Homo sapiens: one gene and its partner. The protein of the gene in region 1 purifies or fractionates together with the protein of each later gene. This does not show direct contact. Each region holds a gene or a part of one and is shown in the gene's direction. Other genes may lie near its edges.

Region 1 (4,992 bases):
TTACTTACCTGTGTATATTTCATGACATTTTTCCCAAAAAAATTTAATAAATACAAAATCATGTTTAAAATTTGGACTGATTTATTTGAATTATCTAATTCATTCTACAAATTTCCCCAAGAATCCCCATTCTAGAAATCAGAAGTGTAGTCAGGCCCTAGGCCTGGCTGGGATGAGCTACCTGCATCTAATCCATAGTCTTATGTTCTGTCCCCTGCCACACTAAAGCATGAGGTAACCCCAAACAAGATCTCGGCCAAACTAAAGAGCAGGTGCTATTATACTTGCTTTTTGTTTAATCTAGCTACCCATATCCTCAGATTATATTTATTGTGTACATACCATATTCAATAGGAACCTTAGTGATACAACCATATACATTTTTATTAACAAATAGAGCATATGGATATCAAATTGCTTTATTTCATATATTTTTTAAATTTAATAATTAGATTTGCTTTTGATAATATTTGTAATTCATATCTATACCAAGGCACTAAGGCTATATCAATGCTTTAAAAATCATATAATTAAAATTTACAAAATAACCAGAAAACAAAAAGAAAGAAAAGTACAGTAATTCTCAAGATAAGGGAGGTTTTCTCCATGTTGGTATTTCCAATCCAGGCCACCAAAAGAGACAACTTAGTTCATTCAAATCGTCAGAAAACTATGTAAATATTTATTGGCTTGATTTAGTCATTCCACAGTTTATACATATCTCAAAACAACATGTACATGATAAATATATACAATTTTGTCAATGAAAATAGATTTACAAATAAAAACACATAAATTGTTTTTAAAATGTCCAAAATTATTATATTAGCAAATTAACTAAAACAAGTAGCCATTATATAAATATTAACTAAAATAATTTTTTTAAAAAAATACTATTCTAAATAATGTAAGGCTGTGCTGTCCTCTAAAAATCTGAAGATCATTGCAATATTCAGAAATGTTTCCCATCACCTACTTCCTGGGAAAACAAATATTCTACCTTATTGTGTATTAGAAGAATCATTCTCTGTAGGGCTAGTCCAAGCATGATTCATATTTTCGGGATGACTCTCCAGTTTTCCTGTAAAGGGGAGCCTGCCTGGCCCATCCCTCCTCTCATGTGTAGCTGAGTCATTTTTATGCGCTGAGAAAGGAATTGTGCAGTTACTACATTTATCTGGTCTTTTCTACCAAGTAACTCAAGGTACTGCTTTAAAAAGAGCAACAATGTTGGAAAATAATTTTGAGACATGTTATAACCACAAGTAATGGTTCTTTTCCATGACAAATTTGAACACGCACTCTTTGGAATCAAGGTTTCAGCTGGAATGTCTAGAAGGGAAGAGTCCTGACATCTTATGTCTGACATAATTACTCATTTGGTTCAGACTTGGACTAGTCTATTCATTATAACCCTAGAAAATAAACAATCTACATTGTTTCAAGAGCAACCATAGTCTTTTGCCAAATAGAAATCTAAATTGACTGTCATATAATTTTCTTTGTACCATTAGTTTGTTTTTTTTTTTTTTCTCTTTATGACAACTTTGGTTAGAATTTAGCAGTAGTTGGCTCACACCTGTAATCCCAGCACTTTGGGAGGCCAAGGCGGGTGGATCACCTGAGGTCAGGAGTTCGAGACCAGCCTAACCAACATGGTGAAACTCCGTCTCTGCTAAAGATACAAAATTAGCCGGGTGTGGTGGTGTGCCCATGCCTGTAATCCCTGTTACTCGGGAGGCTAAGGCAAGAGAATCCCTTGAACCCGGGAGACGAAGCTTACATTGAGTCAAGATCGCACCATTGCACTCCAGCCAGGGCAAAAATTGCACTCCAGCCAGGGCAAAAAGAGCGAAACTCCGTCTCAAAAAAAAAAAAAAAAAGAATTTAGTAGTAGTGAGGTACATGCTCTGGAGTTAGGCTACTGCGGTCGCTATCCTATTATGGCCATTAGCTAGGGCAAAGTATTCATTCCCTTGCATCTCCAATTCTTCATCTGTATACTAGGGATTATAATACTAGAATCTCCTTCAGGTGCCTGCTGTAAGTATTACATAAAACAGTAAGTATAAAGCTCTAGGAGTAGCAGCTGATACCGAAACTACACAATAAACATTAGCTACTGTTATTACTCTTCTAGTTTTTTTTTTCTTCTGACTTATTTTCCACCATTATTTTCCGACCAGATTCATCCGATAATCAGTGGATTAGCAAATACTTGTTAAGCACCTGTGAGGGTTACAAGAAAAAAAAAATAACCTAATAGCACTGAACTGGAAAGTTTACAATACTCCTGGCTTAGCACAGAAATTCTTTCATGTGCATAAAACAAGAAATAATAAACTGTGGTAAACCATCATGGGCTAAATTTCATGGTACAGAATATGTGTTGTACAAACTCAGAAAAAGAGACATCAGTAAAGACAATTTCATGGAGGTTGTTGGAACTTGATGGATCTGGAAGGATGAGCAATATTTAAGTGGGTGGAGTAGAAAGAGGTAATGCATGCCAGGCAGAACAGAAGATGAAAAATGACACAGATGAATGTCTCATATGCTCTTGAGAAGGTGAAGACCCTAGCCTACATGGCTTCATTTTACTGTCATTTAATTTTTTGGGGCCACTCTGAAAATTAAGTTCAATATTTAAATTGAAGTAATAGAGCAGAGATGAACAGATCCATGTCTCACTGCAAACAGGGTTTGTGATTGGAATAGCATATCCTCATCTTTTACGTTTTGTTCTCTAAACCAGACTGGTTCCATTCCATTCTTTTCACTTGTACAATTAAAGAAAATGTTCTGTAATTGTAGAGGACTAATACAGGATTGCCTTCCTACAAATCAGTTGGGTGGCTGAAGGTTTTTAATAATCCCCTGTGGCCCCTTTCTGAAGCATTTCACAATGGTGCTTACCAATGTTTCCCAAAGCAATGACTTTCATAGCTTCCAGGAACGGTGTATAAAGCAGCCAGGTAAGAATTGTGTGGTTGCTGCAACTGACTATTAGGCATAGTTTTTGCAAAGTCCAATAGGTTCTTCTTTATGTCATCAAAATTCTGTAGTCAATTAAAAAACTGGTGGAATGTGTTTATATTGACAGTAATATTCCTTTTCCTGGTAGGAACTTACCCTTTGATTATGGCTTCTTGAAACTTACTTCTTTTGAAATAGAAACAAATCACAATATGAACAATAGAATATAATAATCAGGATTATTCATTGTATATAATTCCTTATTTGAAGAATTCACATTTAATTCGACTTTATTTAAATGTCTGCAGGTGGTCATATTGGTTCATGGAGAATTGCGAATAGAGGTAAAGTATGAAAAAGGTTTTTGTACTTAAAATAATAGTTTAGTTTAAAAAAAAATTAAATTGTGTTTAGTAGAAATGAATATTTAATTTCTAAAATTATTCAATAATTTAATTGTGAAAATATATAAAATTAAAATTCTAATAACTGATAACAATATTTTAAAACTAGTCATCCATAAATGTCATTATTATAATTTATTTCATGCATTCTTTTCTTCTTATCTTAAACAAATCAGCTGGTCAAACCCTATGGGCCCAGTAAGATACTGTGGAGTATAAAAAGAAAATATAAAATACGACTAAATGCTAATATTAAAAATCACATAGCTTTGTAGTTATTTTAGTTATTTAACATTTATTACTTGCTTGACAAAGTATCAGGTAGAGCTAATTAGATACCTAACAGTCTTAGTGATCTTGAAACATAGGGGGTTCCTCAACTAGGTGTCTGTAATCAATATTCTAAGCAAAAATTGCCATTAATTTCCATAACAAATGGAATCCCTTTTTACATAAGACTAAAGGTCAATATGATGAAGAAGAGATGACTATGCAACAAGCTAAAAGAAGGCAAAAACGTGAATGGGTGAAATTTGCCAAACCCTGCAGAGAAGGAGAAGATAACTCAAAAAGAAACCCAATTGCCAAGGTAAGTTATATCAACAGGAGCGTATGAGTTTTTAGAATAAATGTATAAGGTGTAAATTAAAATAATACGGCAATTCCAAATAACAAAATGAAGACTGGGGAGTCCACAGAACAAGTGAACTGGTATCCTCAACAAAATAGTACAATAATAATAATAATGAGAGAAAGAGAGAAAGGAAGGTAGCTTCTAGGGTTATGAAAAAGAATTGAGACAAAGAATTGAGACATATTGACCAATTTTAATATAGAAGGCTTACTTGGATACAGAGTCTAGCAAACAAATAGGAAAAATAATGCATGTATAAGACAGAAATGGTTGGGAGCAAAATATGGATTGGTCATGTATTGATAACTGTTGAAGCTCAGTGATAGGATGTATCAGGTTTATTATACTATTCTCTTTCTTTCTTTCTTTCTTTCTTTCTCTTTCTTTCTTTCTTTCTTTCTTTCTTTCTTTCTTTCTTCTTTCTTTCTTTCTTTCTTTCTTTCTTTCTTTCTTTCTTTCTTTCTTTCTTTCTTTTTCTGAGATGGAGTCACTGTGCCTCCCAGGCTGGAGTGCTGTGGCGCGATCTCAGCTCACTGCAACCTCCTCCTCCCAGGTTCAAGCAATTCTCCTGCCTCAGCCTCCTGAGTAGCTGGGATTACAGGCGTGTGCCACCATGCCCGGCTAATTGTTTTTGTATTTTTAGTAGAGACGGGGTTTCACCATATTGGCCAGGCTGATCTCGAACTTCTGACCTCATGATCTGCCCACCTCGGCCTCCCAAAGTGCTTGGATTACAGGCATGAGCCACCACGCCCAGCCTGTTATACTGTTCTAACTTTACATATATTTCACATTTTTCATGTTAAAAAGCTTTAAAATTACAATAATAATAAGTAAATTATTTTAATACATATTTTAACCCTACCATACAATCTCTTTCCCTTTTTGTCTCTCCACTTCCCCCTATTTAAACTAAATAAATATCTTTTGTTTTTTAATGTTGTCAGGTAAAGAGGGAGCCTTCAGGAGTAGCCTTGT
Region 2 (4,992 bases), on another chromosome or scaffold:
CCTCAAGCTTTGCTTTCTTTTCTTTCTTCTCCTCTATCCCCTTTAGTTCTATTCTATCTCCCTTCTCTTTTTCCTTTTCTTCTATTTCTATTCCATTCCTGCATCCTTTAGTTTCTTATTTCTCTTGCCTCAATCCTTGCCCTTATTCATCCCTTCTAATCTCTCTTTTCCTTTCCTGGTTAATTCTTTTTTGGGGGGGACATTTTTGGGTATTTTCTTACTTTTAGATGATCTTTTTTTCCCTCCTTCTTTTCCCTTCCTCCACTTCCACTCCTTCAAATCCTCTCCCTCTCATCCTCCTCCCTCCCTCTCTCTTTCCTTTAACCCTTTTTTATCTTTACAAATTGCTCACTTCCTTCTCTCTCCCCCTCACTCTCTTTTTTTGTGACAATAAGTTGTAGTCTCTTTTATTTTTTTCTATTTTCTCCAAGTGAAATCCAAGGTTGTAGTCTCTTTATTTTTAATCTTATTTTTTTTTGGTGTATAGTAGGTGTATGTATTAATGGGGTACATGAGATACCCTGAGACAGGCATGCAATGCGTAATAATCACATCATGGAAAATGGAGTGTCCATCCCCTCAAGCATTTATCTTTTGTGTTACAAACCATCCAATTAGACTCTTTTACTTATTTTAAAATGTACAATGAAATTATTATGGACTATAGTCACCCTGTTGTGCTGTTGAATACTAGGTCTTATTTATTCTTTCTAACTACTTTTATTTTTTACCCTTTAACTATCCCCACTTCCATCCTCACCCTCCATCTCTTTCTTGATGGTTATCTTCTATTGTCTCAGCAGGAACATTACATTTGATGTGTCCAATATTAGACAAAAATTGAAGGCTTCCCTGGGAATTTGAATCAAGACTAATAGGTTTCTCAGCCTTGGTAAAAACACTGACTTGAACTCTGATTACTGTTTTTTTCTTTAGCCAGAGGAAGTTATCTTAAAGGGTTTGCCTTTCTCTGGGCTGGCTGGAGCAATGTGACTTGGTGTTCTAGTTTTGACTCCTTCCACCTTTTCAGCCCAAGTTAAAAATCAATTAGAAAAGTTCCTATTTTCTGCACAGGTGAAGTCCAAGCTAGTCTATAATCACATTATGCATTATTTAATACAACTCCATTAATTTACAAGGAGCTCTGGCTTTACTGCAAGATTCAGAATAAGTTTTCCTAAGAAATTTGAGCTTTGCCACCTCAACATCCAACATAGTTATCCTTTAAAACAAAAATTATGATGAGGCTGAGACCCTACTTTCAGCCTGAATTGGTAGATAAATATTCTAAGTTTAAATGAGTGTCCAGGAAAATGTGTTTGACTACTCTAGAAACCTAGCTGCTTAAGAAATATAATGTCCTTGAATTAATCAGTGGAAAAGGCACAGCATTAAATTATAAATTCTAACCATTAATATTCATAGCCTTATTCCAGCATAATCAAGTACAGATAAGAAGTTATGCATAAAAACATAACAAGTAGAGGAAAATCCTAGGTAAAGATCTTTTCAGTTAGAGTCATTTGCTTTGAAATAGTGGAAACTACTGATTTACATGTTGTCTTTGCTGGCAGCAGTGTGAAAGGCAGTTTGAAACCTTATGTGCTCCAGGGAGAGTATGTGGCTTGCCAGGTTTGTGAATATGGGACATTTAATTCCAATACTGTACGGGGGGCTGGTAACATCTGCTTTGCTAATGACAGATAGGGAAGAAGTGCAGAATAGGTGGGAAAGTTTTAGTTCTGAATGTGTCGGTGGCTGCTCTGATCCCAAAAAAACTGTGATTGTGGCCTAAGAAAAAAGTTTATCTGCTAGCTAGGATTTATATAATCGATTTAGTGTGACAGGTGATAATAACAACAATAATAGTAGCAGTTTGTTTGTGCTTTTTCAAATGCTTCCAGTTCTATTCTCTCCTCTCAAGTAACCCTTTAAGGCAGATAGGCCAGGTGTTGTCTCTCCCATTTTAGAGACAGTAAAACTGCAGTTCATAAAGGTAAGGAGACTTGCCCAAGGTCATTCCTCTCTTGGCTGGTTAAGCCAGGTCAGAATTCGAGTCTTCAAAATCATCTCAACTCTCTTTCCTCTTGGCCATGCTGTTAGCATCCTCCAAGGTAGGCCCAGGAAGAGATGCAGTAGTAATGCCTTCAAATCCAAAGTTATCCCTTTAGCTGAGGGCTTTCGAATTTCCAAGTGAGTTATTACAGCTGTCCCTAGGTTGCCTTGAAAATTGTCATTTATCCGGGGGCCTGGGAGAATGCCCGTTTAGGACAGGCCAGTAGAAAAGGTTTTTGACTGCCTTACATTGATTCATTGTCTGTCAGTACACAGAGAAGACAGGGAGCTGCCTCTGCATAAGATGCTGAAAGCATTTTATACTTTTCTGTTGTTTACGGTATGTCCTTTTGTGACTATACTTAGGAAAGGGATGGCACAAAAGGCAGCTCAGGATTTTCTCTTTCTCTGGAGGCTTATGGTCTTTGGCATGAGTTATTTAATATGACACATTTGCTAGTAGATCCTCATGCACGGGAAGGTTGAGGCAGCCTAGGAGACATTAAGGCAACCCATAAAGAAATAACATTGATTGAGCCGTATTTGTATAGTGAAATATAATAAATTAAAAGGTCAGATTGGAAAATGCTGAAATTACTGTTTCTCTATTAATTTCTATAATTCATAGGGCCTCCATTAACTAGGCACTTAACGTACATTATCTCTAGTCTTTATGATAATCTTGTAAGCTCAGTATCATTACCCCCAGTTTACAGGAAACTAAGGGTTAAAGAAATTAAGTGATTTGCCCACTAAGTACTGAAGTTAGATTTGAGTCTAGTTGGGTCTAGCTCCAAAGTACTTTATATGTCTTTACAATCACTCCAGGCTCAATGAACCCTGTTACGTTTACTTTGAAACATATATTGAAAATAGTAGTATGTTGCAAAGTAAACGTACTTATTTCAAATAGTCTGGCCATAGTTATAATCACAGGTTTTGAGAGACTGGCAGAAACATGAACCAGATTAATTCTTTAGCTTGCTAGCACTACACCCTTATTTATTACAAGACCACATTAATTATAAGGAACAATAACAGGCACCCTCAAATCAACGCTCACACAAATTTTATTCCTCATCAATGATATAGTATGTGCATAACAAGCAAAATAAAATGGAAGCTGTGAATGTTAGGCTGGTGGCTTAAAGGCTCAACTAAAACATAGATGAGCCATCTAGTGCTCAGACTTGTCATGATGAGGAGCTTCGAGATAAAGATGTTGACACAGGACGTGTCTCCTCAAGGCTAGACCCATATTCTTGATAGAATGTTTAGCAGCGTCCCTGGTCTTTAGATGCCAATAGCACTCGCCCACCCCCCAGTTATGAGAACCAGGACAAAATCACCACCACTACCGCCCTCCCTCCATTTAGAACCACTTTTCTAGATCAAAATACAGCCATAGGTCAGCTAAAGACAGGGACATGTTCTGATAAATGCATCGTTAGGTGATTTTAACATTGGTGAACGTCATTGTATACTTACACAAACCTAGAGGGTGTAGCCAACTACACACTCAGGCTATATGATATAGCCTATTGCCAGGCTACAAACCTGTACAGCCTGTGACTGTACTGAATAATGTAGGCAATTATAATACAATGGTAAGTTTTTGTGTGTGCATATATATCTAAACATAGAAAAGGTACAGTAAAAATATGATATTTATAATCTCATGGGACCACTGTCATATATGCAGTCTGTCATAGACAAAAATGTTATGCAGCAAATGACTGTATTTTCCAGAAGAAGAAAAAAATGCAGAAAGTGCCCCAAGTGCCAGATGTGGGACTGGAGGCTCCCAGGCAGGCTGGGCTGCCTCTCCCAAGACTGCACCTCCCAGGAGGAGCTGACATGTGGTCAGCATTGTCCACGCATTCCCAAAGCTACAGATTCATATATGTGAAAAGTTCATATGAATGATTTACTTAAATTAGTAAAGTTCACACTCTGAAGTCTTTCTGGCCCATCCCCAAGCTCTTTTGTGTCTTCTCTAACTCCATGGATGATTGCCATTTTCCTGAACACCACTGAGCATCCTTTAAGTGTCAGCTGAAGAACCTTGAGTTTTTTCCTCAAATGGATCTTTACAGACCCTTCATTTTGTCTGCACCAGGGCAGGCACACCACACATTTTTATAGGTAACAAACTCCAGAATATGCCTTGCTTTTTTTTGTGAAAATCTAGGAGAACCACATTTTATTTAGCAGAGATGACAGTTGAATCACTCATTTTTGTAGAACAACAGCTGCGATGTGCCACCAAAATGTTCCAGAGAAGCTGAGGGTGTTTCATTTGTTCCAAGAGCTGGCAAGGCCAAATGCCAACAAGCATATTTATTTCTCAAACTTCCATTTCTGTAATGGATTGGCACTTTATTTATTTTTATCATAGTCAAGGTTTTATGCCTGAGTTTTGTAGACACTGGAACCTGGCAGCCCTATATCTGCAGTGCACTTCTCAGGGGGACTTGTTAGGTTTTATATATAGTGAGCCCTCCATAGCCTTGGTTCCGCATCTGCAGATATAACCAAACTCAGATTGAAAAATTTCACGGAAAAAAACTAATAAAAATAACCATGTAACAACAGGAACTATACAAATAAAAAACAATACAACAATGATTTATATAGCATTTACATTGTTTTAGGTATTATAAGTAATCTAGACTTGATTTAAAGTATTTGGGAGGATGTGTGTAGATTGTAGGCAAATACTGTACCATTTTCTGTCAGAGTCTTAAGCATCCTTGAATTTTGTTATTCTTGGGAGGTTCTGAAACCAATCCACCATGGATACTAAGAGGTGGCCGTATATATGTTTTAACCTCCCTATCCACCAAAATATCACCAGCTTTGTCATCCTCCGAGTTATGGTACATCCAATGGCAGTGAGCATCAGTTGCCCGAGGAGATACACTAGCAGTGCCAAGG

What was found. The genes of interacting proteins can lie anywhere in the genome.
Region 2: the proteins of DSG3 (region 1) and OLFM4 purify together in Homo sapiens (co-immunoprecipitation; one large-scale study listed by IntAct). This does not show direct contact.

What each region holds. Positions count from the first base shown.
Region 1 is NC_000018.10:31,453,156-31,458,147, forward strand, and holds part of DSG3 (desmoglein-3 preproprotein), read left to right. Parts: intron 1-3,284; coding exon 3,285-3,320; intron 3,321-3,837; coding exon 3,838-3,969; intron 3,970-4,992. UniProt on the Homo sapiens protein: A component of desmosome cell-cell junctions which are required for positive regulation of cellular adhesion. Required for adherens and desmosome junction assembly in response to mechanical force in keratinocytes.
Region 2 is NC_000013.11:53,034,852-53,039,843, forward strand, and holds part of OLFM4 (olfactomedin-4 precursor), read left to right. Parts: intron 1-4,992. UniProt on the Homo sapiens protein: May promote proliferation of pancreatic cancer cells by favoring the transition from the S to G2/M phase. In myeloid leukemic cell lines, inhibits cell growth and induces cell differentiation and apoptosis.